2 linked regions of the Homo sapiens genome follow. The protein of the gene in region 1 interacts with the protein of each later gene in a pairwise test. Each region holds a gene or a part of one and is shown on either strand. Other genes may lie near its edges.

Region 1 (3,817 bases):
AACCACTCAATAAACACGTCCCAACCTTAATGAGAACTCCTTGCATATACCGATTTCCCTCCAGCCCAGGGCACCATGATTGTATCTACGGGCCAGAAGATTTGGGGGTGCCAAGATATGTAGACAGAAGTTTGAGCTACAGTCTGGGCGCGGTGGCTCACGCCTGTAGTCCCAGCACTTTGGGAGGCTGAGGTGGGTGGATCATTTGAGGTCAGGAGTTGGAGACCAGCCTGGCCAACATGGCAAAACCTCGTCTCTACTAAAAATAAGCTGGAATGTGGTGGTGCACGCCTGTAATCCAGGCTACTCAGGAGGCTGAGGCATGAGAATTGCTTGAACTCAGGAGGCGGAGGTTGTAGTGAGCCAAGATTGCACCACTGTACTCCAGCCTGGGCGACAGAGCGAGAATCCACCTCAAAAAAAAAAAAAGAAGTTTGAGGGGCAGATTTTTCCATTAATAGAATTACTGGTTACTCAATGGTTCTGAGGCGTAAAAAATAAAAATAAATAAGTAAAATTATTGATAATCTTATTTCTCAGCAAGAAATGTCAAAAAACCTGGAAGATAAACACAATTTTCATCATCTGATGCAAGTGCCCAGGTAGTTTTCACAATGGGGAAGAGTTGGCAGATGGCACGCTCTGCCTGAGAACGAACCTGACAAGCTCGTCGGCGTAGGCTGCCGCAACCTCCTCCTCGGCTTTTCGCTCATAGTACTTATACAGGATGGTCTGGGGGAGCACCTTCTCCAGCTCACTGGTTGGGAACGAACACGTGCAGCTGCCTTCCATGCAGCTGAGCTCCAACTAGAAAAAGGCGAAAAGGCAAAGAAAAAAAAATCAATACCATTTATAGAAAAATAAAAAGCGTCAGTGGTTAAAAACATAGATCCTGAGACAACATAGCAAGGATCTCTCTGCCTGTTCATCTCTGAGAAATCACACTTAAATCATGGAAACCATGAAACAAAAATCCAGTACATCTTTGATATCACTAAAGGACCTCTATTAGCCCAAATCACAATCCACAAAGACTGAAAGTGGCGGAAGGGCAAATGGCTTAGCAGACCACACACAGAAGCCCATAGCTTAGGGTCTGAAAAGGAGATGCTGGGGAGAAGTTGTTCCCCTCTACAGATATTAGAAAGCTGGAGAACCTCTGGAAAGCAGAGCTGAGTGGTGGGGAGGGGCAGGGACTCAAAGTAATAAACTGAAAACAGGGACATGGGTGGAGCCTCTAGTTCCTACCCGCTTCAGAAGGAATTGGCTGACTCTGAGAGAAATGAGGAAGATCTCCTGAACAGCTGGACCACACGGCTCTGGACTGGAAACCACTCATAGAGGAGAGCAGAGCTGAGGGGTGGCCTGAAGTCAGAGTCTGAAATGGAGTCTGCATAATGAACAGAGAACTCTCCAGACCTTTCCTCCCCCTCAGTTTCAGAATGTTGGAAAATGGGCTCACACCCACCAGGCAGGAGGCAGACTGAATCACCCCAGGTAAGAGACTTCAGAGCCATTCAGGTTCATAATATAAAAGCTAACTGGCTCCTATGCACCTAGAGTCAAACTCACTGGTCTATAAGCCCCACTACTCACACAGCTTTCAAACAGCTCTTTAACATGAACAAAAAGTGTCAGACATGAGGAATGCTTCCCACATGAAAGACAAACACCAAAGAAAACAAATGGAAAAAGACGACATTTTAAAAATAACTAGCTAAAATTTATGAGGCATTTACCATGTGTCAAACAATAAGTTCATTAAACTCATCACCTCATTTAGCTTTCAAAACAATGCTATGATTATTTCCATTTTACAGAGGAAGAAACAGTGGCTTAAGGAATTTAAATTGCTCAAGATCACAGGGCTAGTATGGCTGATGGGGGCATGGCCCAATGCATTCTGCTTGACTCCAAAGGTCACGCTCTTTGAAAAAACATAAACTTTATTTATTTATTTTTCTGAGACAGAGTCTCGCCCTGTCACCAAGGCTGGAGTGCAGTGGTGCGATCTCAGCTCACTAAGCCTCCCGAGTAGCTGGATTACAGGCACCCACCACCACACCTGGCTAATTTTTGTATTTTTAGCAGAGATGGGGTTTCACCATGTTGGCCAGGCTAGTCTCGAACTCCTAATCTTGTGATCCACCCAACTTAGCCTCCCAAAGTGCTGGGATTACAGGCATAAGCCACAGCGCCTGGCCTATTTTTCTTTTTTAGAGATGGAGTTTCACTCTTGTTGCCCAGGCTGGAGTGCAATGGCACGATCTCAACTCACCACAACCTCTGCCTCCCAGATTCAACCAATTCTCCTGCCTCAGCCTCCCCAGTAGCTGAGATTATAGGCATGCGCCACCAGGTCTGGCTAATCTTGTATTTTTAGTAGAGATGGGGTTTCTCCATGTTGGTCAGGCTGGTCTTGAACTCCTGACCTCAGGTGATCCGCCTACCTCGGCCTCCCAAAGTGCTGGGATTACAGGCGTGAGCCACCCGGGCAAAAAGTCATCTTCTTAATCACTGTGTTAGTTTTCTATTGCTGCTGGAACAAAATACCACAAACTCGGTGGTGTAAAACAATGTAAAATTCCCATACTGTGTTTGTTATGCTGGTGTCCAGAGAAACTCACTTTGGAGAGAGAAATATGATCTTGTGTAAAGTAAGTTATGTTATTTTAATATATATTTAATCCAATAGGCTGCAAGGTTCTCTCTTTCTGAGGTAACCTTCCCTCTGAATACAAATAAGATGATGAACGAAGGAGGTGCTCCTCTGCGGCTAGGCGTGGGAGTGTGGAAGAATTCTACTGTGCCCTGAAAAGAAATCTGCTGTGCTCAGAGAACCCACATAATCACATACATCAGGTAATGTACACATAAGCATACCAGCAGAACTCCACCTCACCCTCAAAGAGGCACTTACACTTATCTATCAACATGGTCTCCTTAGACTCCAGGAATGTGTCCTATATACATGGGACATATTACACAGTTCTTACCTTTCCAGATCCAAAGACTGCCTCTTGGGCATATCTGATGAGACACTCTTTGCAGAACAAGTGAGCATCTGCGCACTGCGTCAGCTCCTCGAATGGAAATTCCCCATAGCAGCAGCGACACTCAATCAGCTGGCCATCCTGCAGGCAGTCAAGAAACACACATGAAATGTCCTGCACTTAAGGAGAGGGGGAGCCTTGTCTCCCATCCTCATCTCTCTGCCACCCCCCACACAAATTCTGAGGTAAAGCAACCCATTTTAGGGGCCATAAAACAATGATATGCTGTTTCGTGCTATATAAATCTAGCTCAAGATACTAACACAGTATTAATCCATACCTAAAACAGCGAGGTTTTCGTGTTTTTTTTCTGGTATTCTTTAGAGTAATTCTTTATATAAAGTTATCATATTCAATCCCATGGTGCAAAGGGAACTAGAACATCTGTACTCAGATGCTAATGTGATTATAAACAGCAAGGATAAGGAGTATGAGAGATGTTACCCAAAAAACTTTCAAAAGTTGAATTTTGTTCTTGTCATAAGGAGTGTGAATGGGTCTATCGAGGTCTGCGCTTTATTTTAAGGGACTATTGAAGCTATAACTAAAGCAGCAACCTCAAGTAATGTACCAGGCTATTGACTCCTTTTATTAACTATAGCAACGGATCCAATCACCAACTCATTCTTTTTTTTTTTTTTTTTTTTTTTGAGATGGAGTCTCACTCTGTTGCCCGAACTGGAGTGCAGTGGCACGATCTTGGCTCACTGCAACCTCCACCTCCCAGGTTCAAGCGATTCTCCTGCTTCAGCCTCCCGAGTAGT
Region 2 (3,917 bases), on another chromosome or scaffold:
ACCACACCCAGCCTGTACATTGACTTTCTGCCCTTAAACTGTGCTGAAGTTTGTTTCTCAGATGTAGGAGCCTTTGGGCAGAGACTATGGGGTTTCTAGGTATAGAAATTATCTCATCTTCAAACAGAGGTAATTTGACTACCTCTCTCTGCTACTCTCTTCTTACTTGGATGCCTTATAATTCTTTCTCTTTCCTGATGGCTCTGTCTAGGACTTCAAGTACTATGTTGAATAGGATGGTGAGAGTGGGCATTCTTGTCTTGTTTCACTTATGAAGGGAACTTCTTCCAGCTTTTACTCATTCAGTATGATGTTGGTTGTGGGTTTGTCACAGGCGGCTCTTATTATATTGAGTTATGTTTCTTCAATGCTTAGCTTGTTGAGGGCTTTTAACATGAAGAAATGCTTAGTAAAAAGTATGTTCTACATGTGTGTTGAGAAGATCATGTGGTTTTTGTTTTTAGTTTTGTTTAGGTGATGAATCACATGTATTGATTGTGTATGTTCAACCAACCTTGCACCCTAAGAATAAAGTTGACTTGATCATGGTGGATTCACTTTTTGATATGCTGCGGGATTCAGTTCTTAGTATTTTTTGTGGATTTTTGCCTCTATGTTCATCAGGAATATTGGCATGTAGTTTTCTTTTGTTTAATGTTCTTTTCTGTCTTTAGTATCAGGGTGATGCCAGCCTTATAGAATGAGTAAAGGCCACCCTGGGCAAACAGTGAGACCCATCCCTTTTTAAAAATTATGAGTTTTACAAATTTAAAATGCATAGTGAAAAAGTTCTTACAAACTCCAGAAAGATAGGTGTAAATAAGAGACATTTGTAAGAATGACAGCACATTAAATGTGTAGATTTCAACCTTCAGTTATTGCAATATTCCAGTATCAAGTTGGAGGATGTTATCAGTCTGATATTTTTTCCTCAAATGAGAGAGAGAAAGAAAGACACACAAACAACACAGGGAGAAAAAAAGCACACGTTACAGAGAGACAAAAAGGGAGACAGGGAACTGTGAATTTGGACTCTTGTGTCATAAGACAAATTCTAGATAACACGACCAGACCTTCAATTGACATATTGTGTTTTTGCTAATAAGGTGGAATTCTATGATGCGAAATAACTATATAGTCTTTTCTACTGGGATTTAAATCATTTTATCTGTTTCTGGCTTAACAGGAAAAATACAACCATGGAAAATTATGATGATTTATTTAATACGATTGCTCTATAGTGTTAATAAAACCTATTAGGTATTTTGCATATTACATATCAAGGAGAGTTTGAATCTCAGGTAGAAACAAAAAAAAATACATCAAATTTCCTCATGTGAGTGCAGAATTCAATCGTCCCGTGCAGGGGTAAGTGAGTCTGAGATGTGTTTTGAGCCTGGCCGTTGCGCATGATGTGAAGTGACAAGTCTAGTCTGCAGTTTTCAGAAACCCTCATTCCTCCCTTGACTGATTCACCACTTGAACCTCATATGACGTAGAAGAAGCCTACCTATGTCCCCTTCACATGTTGTGGTCAATGTGTCAACTGCACGATCCGGGCCCCTCACCACATCCTCTGCACCGGTCAGTCGAGCCGAGTCACTGCGTCCTGGCAGCAGAAGCTGCACCATGTCCATGTCACCCACGGTCATCATCCTGGCATGTCTTGGTGAGTCCTGGAAGGGAAGGAGCACCAGGGTTACACTATGGGCCTGCAGATTGGGTGTCTCCCCAGCAGAGAGCCATGTTCTGAAGCAAGTGAGTGGTGAGGATGAGTTAATTTTCAGTCCAGCGTGGCGCCCAGTGGCTCAGGAGGAAAGGGTAGGTTGCTGCCGAGATGAATAGTTCATCATGATCTTTCTTTGCAGGGTTCTTCTTGGACCAGAGTGTGTGGGCACACGTGGGTGAGTCCTTCCCCAAATGATGGGTTGCCATCTTCACCCCAATACAAGTGAATTTTCCAGAAATGGGAGGGAGGCAGCACAGAGGGTGGGCTGATGGGCTGACCATGGGAAGGCCTGGGGGGAGTCTCTCATGAACTAGTAAGAGGAGATCCTGGGAGTCTCTCATGAACTAGTAAGAGGAGATCCTGGGAGTCTCTCATGAACTAGTAAGAGGAGATCCTGGTATGCTCAGCCCTCTGTTTTGTCTTAGCCCTCCCCAGCCTTTCTTCCCCATGGCTGAGTTGAGCTCTGTGTGGCCCAGGCGGGATACTGAGGTGCTCAAAGCTGGGGTGTGTGGGGGGATGTGGTGTCACCGACAGAGGAGGGAAGGGTAGCAGTGTTAGGAACAGCAGGTCCTCTGAGGACAAGAGGGTAACTCACACCCTCCAGCGTTTCCATGACGGTAGGGGCTGCAGTGTGGCTGCTGTCATTCTGCCAGAAGAGGTGGGGGAACCACAGCCACGACCCTGCCATTCCAAATCCTCTGATGGAGCTCAGTTGTTTATTGTGGTTCAGGCATTAGCTAATATTCCATTCACAAAGGTCATACCCTCCACCCCATGTCTACTTTGTGTTCTTTGGTGTAACTAATCTTGCAGTATTAAAATCTAGTAAGAGTCCCTTACTCAGCACCTGCTCAGTTCTCAACTGACACTTTTGTTGTAGGGAGACGCCACGTCTATGCGGGATGGGTCCTTCCTGTAGCCCCAGGCACCCAGGTGTGGTAGGAGCCTTAGAAAGAAGAAATGGGGAGAATCTTCTGAGCACAGGGAGGGAGGGGCAGCTCAACATACTCCTCTCTGAGGCGGCATCTCCTTCTCCCCAAGGTGGTCAGGACAAGCCCTTCTGCTCTGCCTGGCCCAGCGCTGTGGTGCCTCAAGGAGGACACGTGACTCTTCGGTGTCACTATCGTCGTGGGTTTAACATCTTCACGCTGTACAAGAAAGATGGGGTCCCTGTCCCTGAGCTCTACAACAGAATATTCTGGAACAGTTTCCTCATTAGCCCTGTGACCCCAGCACACGCAGGGACCTACAGATGTCGAGGTTTTCACCCGCACTCCCCCACTGAGTGGTCGGCACCCAGCAACCCCCTGGTGATCATGGTCACAGGTCAGAGGGCTCCTGTCTGGGCTTCTCCTTGTCCCACCTCCTGAGTCCCAGAGCTTCTGGTGGGGGTGTCCACCAGAGTCCGATCATCCAGGCCCCAACTATATTTGGGGTAAAGGGGGATTGAATACAGGGGAATGGGTGCTGTGTTGGAAAGAATAACTGTCCCCATCGATGGCCACATTGTAATCCTTGGAGCCTGTGACTATGTTATAGGGCAGGGGACTGAAGGGGAAGATGGAGCTCAGGTTGTTGATGAGTTGACCTTGAGATGGGGAGATGGCCTGGACTCTCCCACTGGGCTCAGTGTAATCACAAGGGTCCATATGAGTGGAGAAGGAAGAGGAGAATGGGGATTAGAGCAGCATCGTGGGATACTCCACCAGCCACTGTGGGCTTTGAAGGTGGAGGAAGACCACGAGCCACGAAGGGGCTGGAGAAATCAATGGAACTGATTCTCCCGAGTCTCCAGAGGGAATGCAGCCCTGCAGATGCCTTGATTGTAGCCCAGGAAGAACAGGGTCTGATTTCTGTCTCCAGAAGTGGAAGGGGTCAGTGTGTTCTCTCCTGCCGCCATGTTTGTGATAATTTTCTCCAGCAACAACAGGAAACCAACACAGGAACCCAGGTGAAGGACAAGTTAAAAAACCAAACAAGAAGGTTGGCTACCCTGAGATCAGCAAGGGTGCACTGCTGATGCCACCACCAGGCTGGAACCACATAGGGAGGGATCGACAGGAAGAGTTGGGGGTGGAGGGTGAGAGAGAGAGAGAGAGCACTAGGCCATAGAGCAGGGCAGTGAGTTCTCAGCTCAGGTGGGAGGGGAGCTGTGACAAGGAAGAACCTCCCTGAGGAAACTGCCTCT

What was found.
Region 2: the proteins of RNF216 (region 1) and KIR2DL4 interact in a two-hybrid assay, tested with the Homo sapiens proteins (one study listed by BioGRID).

What each region holds. Positions count from the first base shown.
Region 1 is NC_000007.14:5,712,057-5,715,873, forward strand, and holds part of RNF216 (E3 ubiquitin-protein ligase RNF216), read right to left. Parts: intron 3,135-3,817; coding exon 2,997-3,134; intron 808-2,996; coding exon 659-807; intron 1-658.
Region 2 is NC_000019.10:54,802,023-54,805,939, forward strand, and holds the start of KIR2DL4 (killer cell immunoglobulin-like receptor 2DL4 isoform c precursor), read left to right. Parts: upstream 1-1,587; 5' UTR 1,588-1,629; coding exon 1,630-1,669; intron 1,670-1,868; coding exon 1,869-1,904; intron 1,905-2,770; coding exon 2,771-3,055; intron 3,056-3,917. UniProt on the Homo sapiens protein: Receptor for non-classical major histocompatibility class Ib HLA-G molecules. Recognizes HLA-G in complex with B2M/beta-2 microglobulin and a nonamer self-peptide (peptide-bound HLA-G-B2M).